Regions from separate parts of the Homo sapiens genome. Here region 1 is linked to region 2. The links come from fine-mapping of genetic effects on gene expression. A gene starts in region 2. The other region holds a variant in brackets. All regions are shown on one strand. Distances are between the middles of the regions.

Evidence for each region. PIP is the estimated chance that this variant, and not a neighbour inherited with it, causes the effect.
Region 1: its variant is the best candidate, but not a certain one, in a credible set for the expression of CTSC in whole blood (INTERVAL, PIP 0.51).

Annotation. Positions count from the first base shown.
Region 1 is chr11:88,373,167-88,378,550 of GRCh38, forward strand. LOC101929174 (a long non-coding RNA gene) reads left to right here. Exons shown (of 5, transcript NR_188511.1): 2 at 71-161. Among named protein-coding and RNA genes, the nearest start is that of CTSC, 38 kb to the left of the region's middle. The variant GT/G (reference allele first, on the strand shown) is at 3,354.
Region 2 is chr11:88,335,051-88,340,434 of GRCh38, forward strand. It overlaps CTSC (cathepsin C), which reads right to left and starts at 2,686. Exons shown (of 7, transcript NM_001814.6): 1 at 2,451-2,686; 2 at 1-32. The coding sequence starts at 2,622. LOC101929174 (a long non-coding RNA gene) reads left to right here and starts at 2,834. Exons shown (of 5, transcript NR_188511.1): 1 at 2,834-3,006. RefSeq lists an enhancer at 2,402-2,681.

The sequences.
Region 1 (5,384 bases), 38 kb after region 2:
AGCTTATTCATGACCATGAGAACCTAAACACAAAAGGAGTTGATCCTAACTCACATGTTCTTTTCCACAGGCTTCCAGAGGTGTTCATGCAGAAGACTGGATGCAGGACCCTTGGTGGCACCAGTGTGCAGATGAGCAGATAGTGACTGATTGCCACTGGGGTAAGTTGGAAATTACCACTCACTTCTCTGGATTCATGTCTCAAATAAAACAAATTACTAAGCCACTGAGAAAGAGGCAACAACCCCTCCAACATTAAGGGCCAGAAAAAGGTCCTCTGCTTATATGAAAGTGATAACATAAAAGGTAGGAAAACCTTCTTTCTCCAGGACCCAGAAAAAGACCCATTCCTTCTGGGAGAAGGGTAGAATTAAAATATCTCTACCTCTTGGAAATTTGAAAGAAAACTTTTGGGCCCAGGTTCCTGGACTGATACAAAGCAGAGGTCTGCTACAACTGGAGTATGGGCAGGATCCAGGGGGAAAAGGGGAGCAGGAATGCTGAAAAGCCAAAGCTTCAAGGCCCGGGTGTATAGGATCTGCCTAAGACTGAGACTGGGTCATTAGAGCCAAGAATCTCATCTTCTCTCCAAGAGCTTCAAACTGAGTAACCAGCAATAATAGTCTACCAACTGGGACCAGGACAAAGGATGGTAAGAGATTCTCTCTGTGGTAGAGAATGGCTGAAAGCAGGGGATGGATCAGCAATACTGAAAAAAACGTTCTGGTACCCAAGGAACCACTCTAAGCACAATGTACATATTCTATCACTGGAGGAATTGGAAGTGTGTGGTACACTTCAGGTAACAATAGCAAAAACAATTACCAAATCTAGTCTAACTACTAACTAGATTGACTCAACTCAGAAGTAGAGGTACACACATTTCCAAGAGTAAATACTATTTACTTTTGTATCTGCTGTTTTTCCACATACAATTACCAGTATTTAGTAACAATTATGTTCTGTACCCACAAAAGCAAGAAAGAATGACCCCATTGTCAAGAATAAGAAGCAAGAATCCCAGCACTCTGGGAGGCCAAGGCGGGCGGATCATGAGGTCCGGAGATCAAGACCATCTTGGCTAACATGGTGAAACCCCGTCTCTACTAAAAAATACAAAAAATTAGCCGGGCGTGGTGGCAGGTGCCTGTAGTCCCAGCTACTCGGGAGGCTGAGGCAAGAGAATGGTGTGAACCTGGGAGGCGGAGCTTGCAGTGAGCCAATATAGCACCACTGTACTCCAGCCTGGGTGACAGAGTGAGACTCCATCTCAAAAAACAAACAAACAAACAAACAAAAAAAAAAAAAAGAAGCAAGAAAAATCAGATTCAGAGTTGAGTCTGATAGCTGAAACTATAGTTGAAACTCTCCGACTGGAACATTTAAATAACTATGATTAATATAATAAAGGACCTAAAGAAAAAGGAGAATGACATGCACAAAGAGATGAATTTCAGCATAGAGATAGAAACAATAAATATAATCAAGTGGAATTGCTAGAAATTAAAAAAAGATAAGGGAAATAACATTGAATATTTATAATCAGACTGCATGCAGCTGAGAAAAAAAGTAAACTGGAAGATGTCCATAGAAATTATTCAAACTGAAACATAAAAATAAAAAAGATTGATAAGGCCAGTATACAAAAATGCATGGTAATTTTACATACTAGCAAGGATAATTTAGAAATTATTATTATTTTCCTTTTGTTATGGGAGATGAGATGCTATTTCTTTGAAGGCCCCTTCTCTTCTTTAGCTCTTGATTCCACTCTTTTATATTTTCACGAATCCTCTAATCTTCGTGTGTTTCTGTCTCTCTCATCAGCTATTTTACTCTTTATTAAATTATTTGCTTTATCATTTAGACTCTCTAGTAGTTATATAAAAAGAAGCACAAATAAACCTCTTTGACTCCCTGTCTCTCCGCCACCTGCCACCCACCTCACTCCCTCCTCAACATACACCTACCCTGGTCTTTGTTCCCATTACTACCCTCAATCAGCTCTAGTCAAGAGAACAAGTATAGTGGTTACTTCTCTACCATTGACTTAGCCTATTAAGAACTCTTGACCAGCAGTCACTCCTGCTTTCTTGAAACATTTATTTATTCTGCCTTCCTTAACACCGCACATTTCTTTTTCTGCCTCACTGAGACCTCATTCTGTCTCCTTTTCTGGCTTAAATTATCGTATTCAATGTCTAACTGTTGATGTACTTTAGGGTTGAGTCTCAGATTCTTTCTGTTGCCTTCTTACATTTTTTCCTATAGAAAAGATCCTCCAGTAATAGGGTTTTAAGTACTACTTGTATGCTGATGTCTTCCAAATTTCCATCTGGACATCTTTTGTGAGCTCCAGCCTTGCATACACAACTAAATTCATGACATTTTCACTTTGAATATCAATAGGCATTTCAAATTTATCATTTCCAAAAAAGAACTGTTAACTCTCATCCACCTTCAGCAAATCTATTTCTCCCATAAACTCCCTCATCTCAGTAGAAGATACCATTATCTGCTCAGTTGCTCAAGCCAAAAACTTAGGAGTTGTTTTTGATTGCTTTCTTCTGCTCACTTCCCATGCCCAATGCAGCAGCAAGTGACATCATTTGTACCTCTCAAGTATATTCTGAATCTTTCCTTTTGCAGCATGTCTATGTGCATCCAAGCCATTTGGATTATCATATTAGCATCCTAACTGGTCTTTGTGCTTCAACTCCTGCTTTTCTAAACTCCATCCTCACAGAGCAGCCAATGTACTTTTAAATATATATATATGTGTGTGTGTTATATATATGTGTGCGTGTATAGGTATATATGTATTATATATATGTGTGTGTGTATATGTATATATATACACATATAATACACATACACATATATATATACACATACATATATTTTACATATATATATATATTTCCTACCGTGGTCTATATGGCTTCTGACCACCTCTCTGATCATAACTTCTTTCACTTTTCCTCTTACTCACTGTTTTTCAACAACACTGTGTTTTTTTCTTGAACAGAAAGAGAACTTGCTCCTGCTAGTTCCTTTTCATTCATATGGAAGCCTAAGCATTTTATCCCCAGGAGGGCTTCCCTGACTATTGTAGTTAGCATCCTACTGCTTCATTAATACAGTTCTAGCTATTCTCCATATTCTTATGAGGAGGTGAGTAGAGACAGCAAGATGGGCATGGGAAAAAAGCTAACAAAATATTGTCTCAGATTGAGACTAGCTTCATTCTAATTTCACAGAATCTCTGGAGAAAAGTCTGCTACAGTGTAAATATCCCCTTGGAGTAAGGCAGTGGCCTTTGGTACTCCTCCATCAGTCATTTTTTTTTTTGG[GT/G]TTTTTTTTTTTTTTGCCAAGGTCCAAGGGATGGACAGTGAGGTTAGCTGACCTCCTGAGCAACGAGGCTGCCATTGACCAAGGACAGTTCTTTACAGAAGGGAGAAACTGTGGGTGGTAGACAACACTGCTACTTCCAGCAACTGGAGGGGTCAGGGCAGTGGGTAGCAAAGAGAATATTGGCAGGACATCAACAGCCTCTATTATACAATGTTCATCTTTGGGGTTTGTTCAGCTTTTTAAATATGTAGGTTTGTGTCTTTTGCCACATTTGGGACATTTTTAGCCATTATTTCTTTGAGTATTTTTTAGCCTATCTTTTTTTAACTTTTTTATTGTGGCCAACTTAGTCTAATATAGCTACCATTTTTTCCCCTCTTCTTTTGAACTGAATTAAATTTTAGGTGGAAAGATGGGTATAGGATTTGAATAACATAGTTTCAAAAATTCTTTTTAATTCTAAAATTTTATAATTTTGTAATTGTAACAATATCATCTAAGTTTATTCATGGTAATTAATCATAATACTGACACAGATTTTATTTCACTTTTCTAAGCATTTGATTTACATTATGATACATAGTCAAGTAGTGAGACTTGATTATGCTTTTCAGAATTCATTAGATCTGTAGAAATTATATCCAGGTCTGCAATCACACTGACCCACCCTCAATCATCTTGTTTACATTCTATTCTACCCTAGTCAACTCTAGCTGTAATAAGCCTACTGGAACTTTAACATCGCATCTTCTGCGATTGCTTTCCTTACCATTGTAAGCTAAAATTACTCCTCTCTTTACTCTAGAAAATGATAGTACTTAGCACATTACACAATGATGTCATTAATTTTGTATAGCTAAGGATGATCTCAGTGCCCAAGATTTTCTAGTAGTTAAATATTTTCTCATCTCAAACACATTCAGAGTTCCTTCTGACTTTTACAAGTCTTACCCCCATTAAACTCATTTAAATCTACAAAAAAACTGGAAAATAAAGACAAAATCTATTTATCTTCTCATTATTTTCCCTTTCATTTCTGTCAGCTCTGGAAATAAACTGGTTTTGCCTTTACATCTAATTTTTTTAATTTTATGCAGGCTGAAAAGGAATTTATTTGTTCAAGCAAATAATGTCATCAACTTATAATGAAAGAATGTATACTGTTTTCAACTGGCTGGAGATTGATATTCCTATTTAGAAAAACACTTACTATAGCATGACAATAAGATGTATGGAAAATAAAAGTCTAAATAAATTGCTTGGAACAAATAGACTTGGAACAAAAGCAAAGGTTGTTGGCTCAGATTGCTGGGCAATACATGAGACCAATGTTTCACAAACTCTGTGTTTCTCCAGCTGTTAATAGATTTCCCCTGAAATGAACAGTTAATTTCCTGGTCAAATACATTGGAGGAAATGCTGTATAGTGTGATTTAAAAGATAAATTAACCATTTAAAAATGTTCAGAAGTCCTACTGAAAAGAAATCCATTATTCTTAAACACTTATGCAAACATCTCTCAGTTCACTAATAATTTCAGATCAGCCAGGAAACTTTTGACTTGGACTATTATACAGTTATTCCCAAGTATATGTTCTCTTGTATTAGTTGATTCTGTCAGTCAGTGTTTGGTTGCAGAGTACTGACTCTACTGTAGATAATTCTAGGAGAAATAAATTATAAATGTGTGCTAAATGGCTAACAGAATTTGGGGAATAAATGAAATAACAGACTTTTAGGCAGAACTTCCAAAAATCACTTGGAAAACCACATAACAGAACTGTGTCTCTAAGGGTTTTTCTCTTTCCATCATAATCAGGAATCTGATTATTGAATTGAGAAGCTGCTGCTACAGAAAGTTCCATACCCTCTCTGTTTTGTTGTGACCCACACCAGCAAAATAGAGGTCTCACACCTGGCCTTTCTATGTACTTAAAACAATTTAAATTCAGATTTCACTCTTGTGCATCTGATTGGTGAAACATAAACATATCCAGAATCTCAGCTTCAAGGGAATCTGGATAATGTGA
Region 2 (5,384 bases):
AAGGTACACCACTACTTTTTTTTCTTGTGGTCCTAAAGAAAAAAAAAAAAAGCACAATAAAGGAAAATTATTTGGATTTCAATAGGGGAAAGAATCCCCCAATTTCAATTTTAATTGTGCTGCTTTCCTTTCATGCTACCCAGTTTGAGCACAGTCTGCCTAGTGAAGAAACCAGAGGCTCCATCTTGTTGCCTCAAACAGTTCCTGCTCCGAGGCAAGACTGTGAAGTTAGGCTCTAAAAATTTGAGATAATGCAAGCAGAAGCAGTGGCTCACGCCTGTAATCCTAGCACTTTGCGGGGCTGAGGTCAGAACTTCAAGACTAGTTTGGGCAACATAGTGAGACCCTGTCTCTACAAAAATAATTTTTAAAAATTCGCTGGTTATGGTGGTGCATTGCCTGTAGTCCCAGCTATTTGAGCGGCTGAAGCTGAGGTGGAAGGATTGCTTGAGCCCAGGAGTTGGAGGCTGCAGTGAGCTATGATTGCACAACTGCATTCCAACCTGGGCAACACAGTGAGACCTTGTCTCAAAAAAGAGAGATATGCTATGCAGCCCAGCAGGCAGGGAGACCCCCAAAACTACAGTACCTTTCCAGAGCATCCCAACACTGAAGAAATTTTTCCACTGAACAAAAGGAGAAATGGGGAATGTTGAAAATTACAGGCTTCCAGAAACGGAGAAAAGGCAAAATGCTAGTCAAAAGTGGGAAATGCAAGAATAAAAGGTATGACAACAAAAAGATAAATAAACAGACTATCAGATCCTAAGGAAGACAATGTGCTAAGCCCAGGAGAAGACACAAAATGATCTATTCGGAGAAGAAATGGGGTACCTTTCTCCTCAAAGGCTCTACAGTTTAGAACCTCATAATCTGAATCCTTCCAAAGTTTATTCAGCAAACTAGAGGTCTGTATCCTATAAAACCAATTAGTGCTGATAGGAATGATACGTTTAACCTTCATAGATGAGGGCTCAGACCTGTGGGTGCCTTTAATTACTGAATTAAGGCCAAAGGTAATTTTATAGGCAGAGCCTTCCTGAAAATGATTCAGCTGTGTCCATCTGGAGAGTTGTGTATTTTAAAGTTTTTCCATGTTTGAGAGTAATGCTCTGACATGGGAGATTGCATGTGACAGGGCAGTGCAAATCCTGATCTCTTTCTGCCCCAACCTTCAAACTCAAATTTAAAAAAAAAAAAAAAAAAAAGGCCAGGCGTGGTGACTCCCGCCTGTAATCCCAGTACTTTGGGAGGCCGAGGCGGGCGGATCACGAGGTCAGGAGATGGAGACCATCCTGGCTAACACAGTGAAACCCGTCTCTACTAAAAATACAAAATATTAGCCGGGCGTGGTGGCATGTGCCCGTAATCCTAGCTACTCGGGAGACTGAGGCAGGAGAATCGCTTAAACCCGGGAGGCGGAGGTTGCAGTGAGCCGAGATCCCGCCACTGAACTACAGCCTGGGTGACAGAGCAAGACTCCATTCTCAAAAAAAAAAAAAAAAAAGTTACAATGTTCAGGATTATGAAATGCTATACAGTCAGTTAAAAAGGTATTTCTTTAGTAACAAATGACTTAATCTTTGTTCTGTTGACAAGAAAATTATAGCTGATTTTTTACTGACTCTGCAGAAGTCACAGGCTGTAAGAGGGTTTGGGTAGACCACAGTGTGACTCTTCTAACTAGTGATTGTCTTTTTTCCACCCCACCCCCTTCACTAGGTTCTTTGTTCTAGGGGTAACCATGTTATCTGAAGGCATATGGAATATCTCCAGTATGTTCAAACACTAGGTATTTATTGAGAGCCTTCCATGAGCCAAACATTGTGCAGACTCTGGGCATTTCTAATTACTAGGTTCAGAGTTAAGTTTTCTTTGTTATTAATTTTTTAAAAAATTTTTACCTCCTTGCAATGCATGAAACAATGCAGAGTGGTACTAGCCGTTTTCTAGTACTCATCAACACCCGCTCAAACCAAAATCGCTGGGCAGAAAGTCCCTTTCCCACCATCTAACAAAAAGAGAAAACTTCATGCTATATCCTCGAGAGTCTCTGAGCTCATCTATCTTCACTAGTAAAATAGTAATAAAAAATAAAAATAAATTTTAAAAATAACGCTACCAGATCGGACTGGAGAACCAAACGATTGCAGTTCCCAAGTCTCTCTCAAAGCAAACAAAATTAAGCGGGAGGAATAAAAAAGTTCTTGATCAAAGTGTTGAGTCCCCAAGATAACCAAGAAAGTGTGGAGTTAGAAGTTCTCAGCAGATGAACTTTAACTTCGCGAGCCTGGCGGGGAAGAAGGTCCCCAAGGGTCCCCGAATCCAGTCAAGATGCTCTGGCCACCCACAAGCGTCTGCCTGGGGGGAAGCGGTAGTTGGCGTGGCGCTGCGTTAGGGGCTCAAGGGCAGAAAGGACGACCCGGAGGACTGCCGAGCCGGCGGCTTACCCATAACCGAGCAGTTGACATCGCGCTGGGAACCGCTGGAGCCCACCTGGAAGACCCAGGTGCCCAGCAGGTCAAGATAGGTGCAGTTGGCAGGTGTGTCGCAGCGCACGGCGCCGTCGCCGGAGAGAAGCAGCAGGAGGGCGGCGAGCAGCAAGGAGGGCCCAGCACCCATGCTGCAGGGAGCTGAGAAAAGAGGTGAAGAATTACCAGGAAGCCGAGCGCTGCGGGCTAGCGGTGAGTCCACCACGAGGCGCGCGCCTTGAAATAGCTACGCCGGCCCGGAAACCCGTGGGCGGGGTCACTGAGCAGCAGGGGATTGGGGGTTGGGCGCCAGGCGCGTGCGCGTCTCTGAAACGGGGACTTGGGAGCGCGCGCTGCCCCTCACTTGGCTGCAACTGGACCCAGAACTAGGGAAGAGGCCAGGGACAGATTTTTTTTTTTTATTTTTATTTTTTTTGCCGAGGGACGTTTCAAAATTTTGCACGGCCAGGGTGACAAAAAGAGGATTTAAGAGCCACAAGCGGTCCGCACATGACCCAGACTTCGTTCCTGTGCGGTAACGTAGGGAGAGAAGGAAAGGGTGTGGGGGGAATAAGGGAGTGGGTCAGGTGAAAGAGCGCGACAGAGGGAGAGATCTAGCAAGTGGAGTTCTGTTTTACTTGCTATTCTTCCCCTTTAGTCTTTTTTCTCAGGTCCACTTGCCTCATAACCAACTTCTTGTTTTTTCCTCTGAAAAACTTCGCTAGCTAACATCAACTATTCCAGCTGTTTGAGAACTTATCTTCCTTCCGTTTTCCAACTCTTCCTACTTTTTTATGTGCTTGATTTTGTTTTGTTTCCTGGTAAATGCTGTTTGCCTGTTTGCATTCAGCAGAATTCAGTTTTTGTGCAAACCTGCAGTTTTGATGTATTAGCGTTGTGGGGGTTTTCCCTCTGGCACGCACACACATGGCGCTCTCAGAGATGATATTGCTCAACCCCTTTTATGTTACAGAGGAAAAGCAAGAGGCCCAGAGAGAGGAAGCGGCTTGCCCAGGGTGAGAAGGGTGAGGAAGGAAGCTAGCCAATGGGAGAAGGCTGGTCTTATGAACCGTTCTAGTGTGTCAGTCTGATCGCCAAAAATTATTAGGTGGCACTATTTCCAGGTGCCTCCTTGCTCAGTTTAAGTATCACCCTTTTCCGTAAGAGCCTCCCGTTCTTTCCTGGCTTTTGTTGGTAATTGGGGCTCCTTTCTCCCACTGAGCCTACTAGGTGTCAGGCCCTGTGGACACAGTGATGAACAAGACAGACCTGATGTGTCCCCGTTTTCTTTGGGATATGAATTTTTGCCCCCTTTGCACTGGTCACAAATCAATATTCATATGTCCATTTTTTTTCCACCAGATTATAAACATTCAAAGAGAGCAGGTCCAAATTATTCACTTATATCTCCCTAGATTCTGGTTTATTCAGAAAGTGTCCTTGAGTGTTAAAATAAGTGTACTTAATATTCTTATCTTGGTTGCCAAGCTTGAAAGCCAGTTTCAATGAGGCAAAAGGAGTTGTCCTTGAAAGTTCAGAGGTGAAAATACTCTTCAATGGGGGCACAAATTTCCAAAGCCTGGGGCGGGGTTGGTGGCGGGGGGTTGGGGAACACCTTGCTTTTAGGTTTTATATACCTTCTTAGAATTGAAAGCTGACATTGTATAATTAAGCTAACACACTATTTATTTAAAGATACCCTGACAGATTAAGCTTCCCTTCCTGAATCTCTAGGAAGGTGTGTTACTGATTGTTAAAACATTAAATTTGTATTAGGTCATCAATATTGAAGAGCCAGTTTAGGTGGAAATTTCTTTGATGAATGTAATCAAAGCAACACACTTAATTGTAAAGAAAGTTTAAAACAGTCTTTATTCAATGATTGAATAATAGAAAAAGATCTTGTGGACCTCTTAGTCTAATGGATTCATTTTAAAATTGGGAAATGGAGATTCAGAGAGTTAAATCACTTGCTGAATGTCATATTGCCACTTAGTAAGATTTAAGAATGAACCTCAGGCACATTGATTTTCAGTTTAGTTTATTTCTACTAATCTAATAATTCCCATACTGTTCTCTCTCAAAAATAACTACTAACTCTCCATTCCACGCACACACAAAAAATTGATTCTCAAACTGATCAGACCCCAAATCCTTTACTTTCTGAAATGAAATTAATATATAAACTGCTTACACACTTAATAAAAAGAAATGTAATGCCAAATGTAATATAAAGAAGAAATCAGATATTTTAAATATATTTCTAGTATAATAAGTTATATCCCATCATGTAAAATGTTCAAGTATGACTGTGTTGGAAAACATAATGAGGCACTCAGATACTTGCTCTTCACACTTCTGTAACCACCCAATGGATTCACCTGGCCTGCTGCCTAGACAGAGCCAATTTATCAAGACAGGGGAATTGCAATGGAGGAAGAGTAATTCATACAGAGCCGGCTGTGGGGGAGACGGGAGTTTTATTATCACTCAAATCAGTCTCCCCGAGCATTCAGGGATCAGAGTTTTCAAAGATAATTTGGTGGGTAGGGGCTTGGGAAGTGGGGAGTGCTGATTGGTTAGGTTGGAGATGGAATCATAGGGGGTCTAAGTGAGTTTTTCTTGCTATCTTCTGTTCCTGGGTGGGATGGCAGATATGGTTGAGCCAGATTGCTGGTCTCAGTGGTGTCAGCTGATCTATGGAGTGCAGGGTCTGTAAAATATCTCAAGCACTGATCTTAGATTTTACAATAGAGATGTTATCCCCAGAAGCAACTTGGAGGGTGGGAGGGTGCAGACTCTTGGAGCCAGAGGCCACATGACCCCTAAACTGTAATTTCTAATCTTGTAGCTAATTTGTTAGTCCTGCGAAGGCAGACTGGTCCCCAGGCAAGAAGGGAGTCTTTTTGGGAA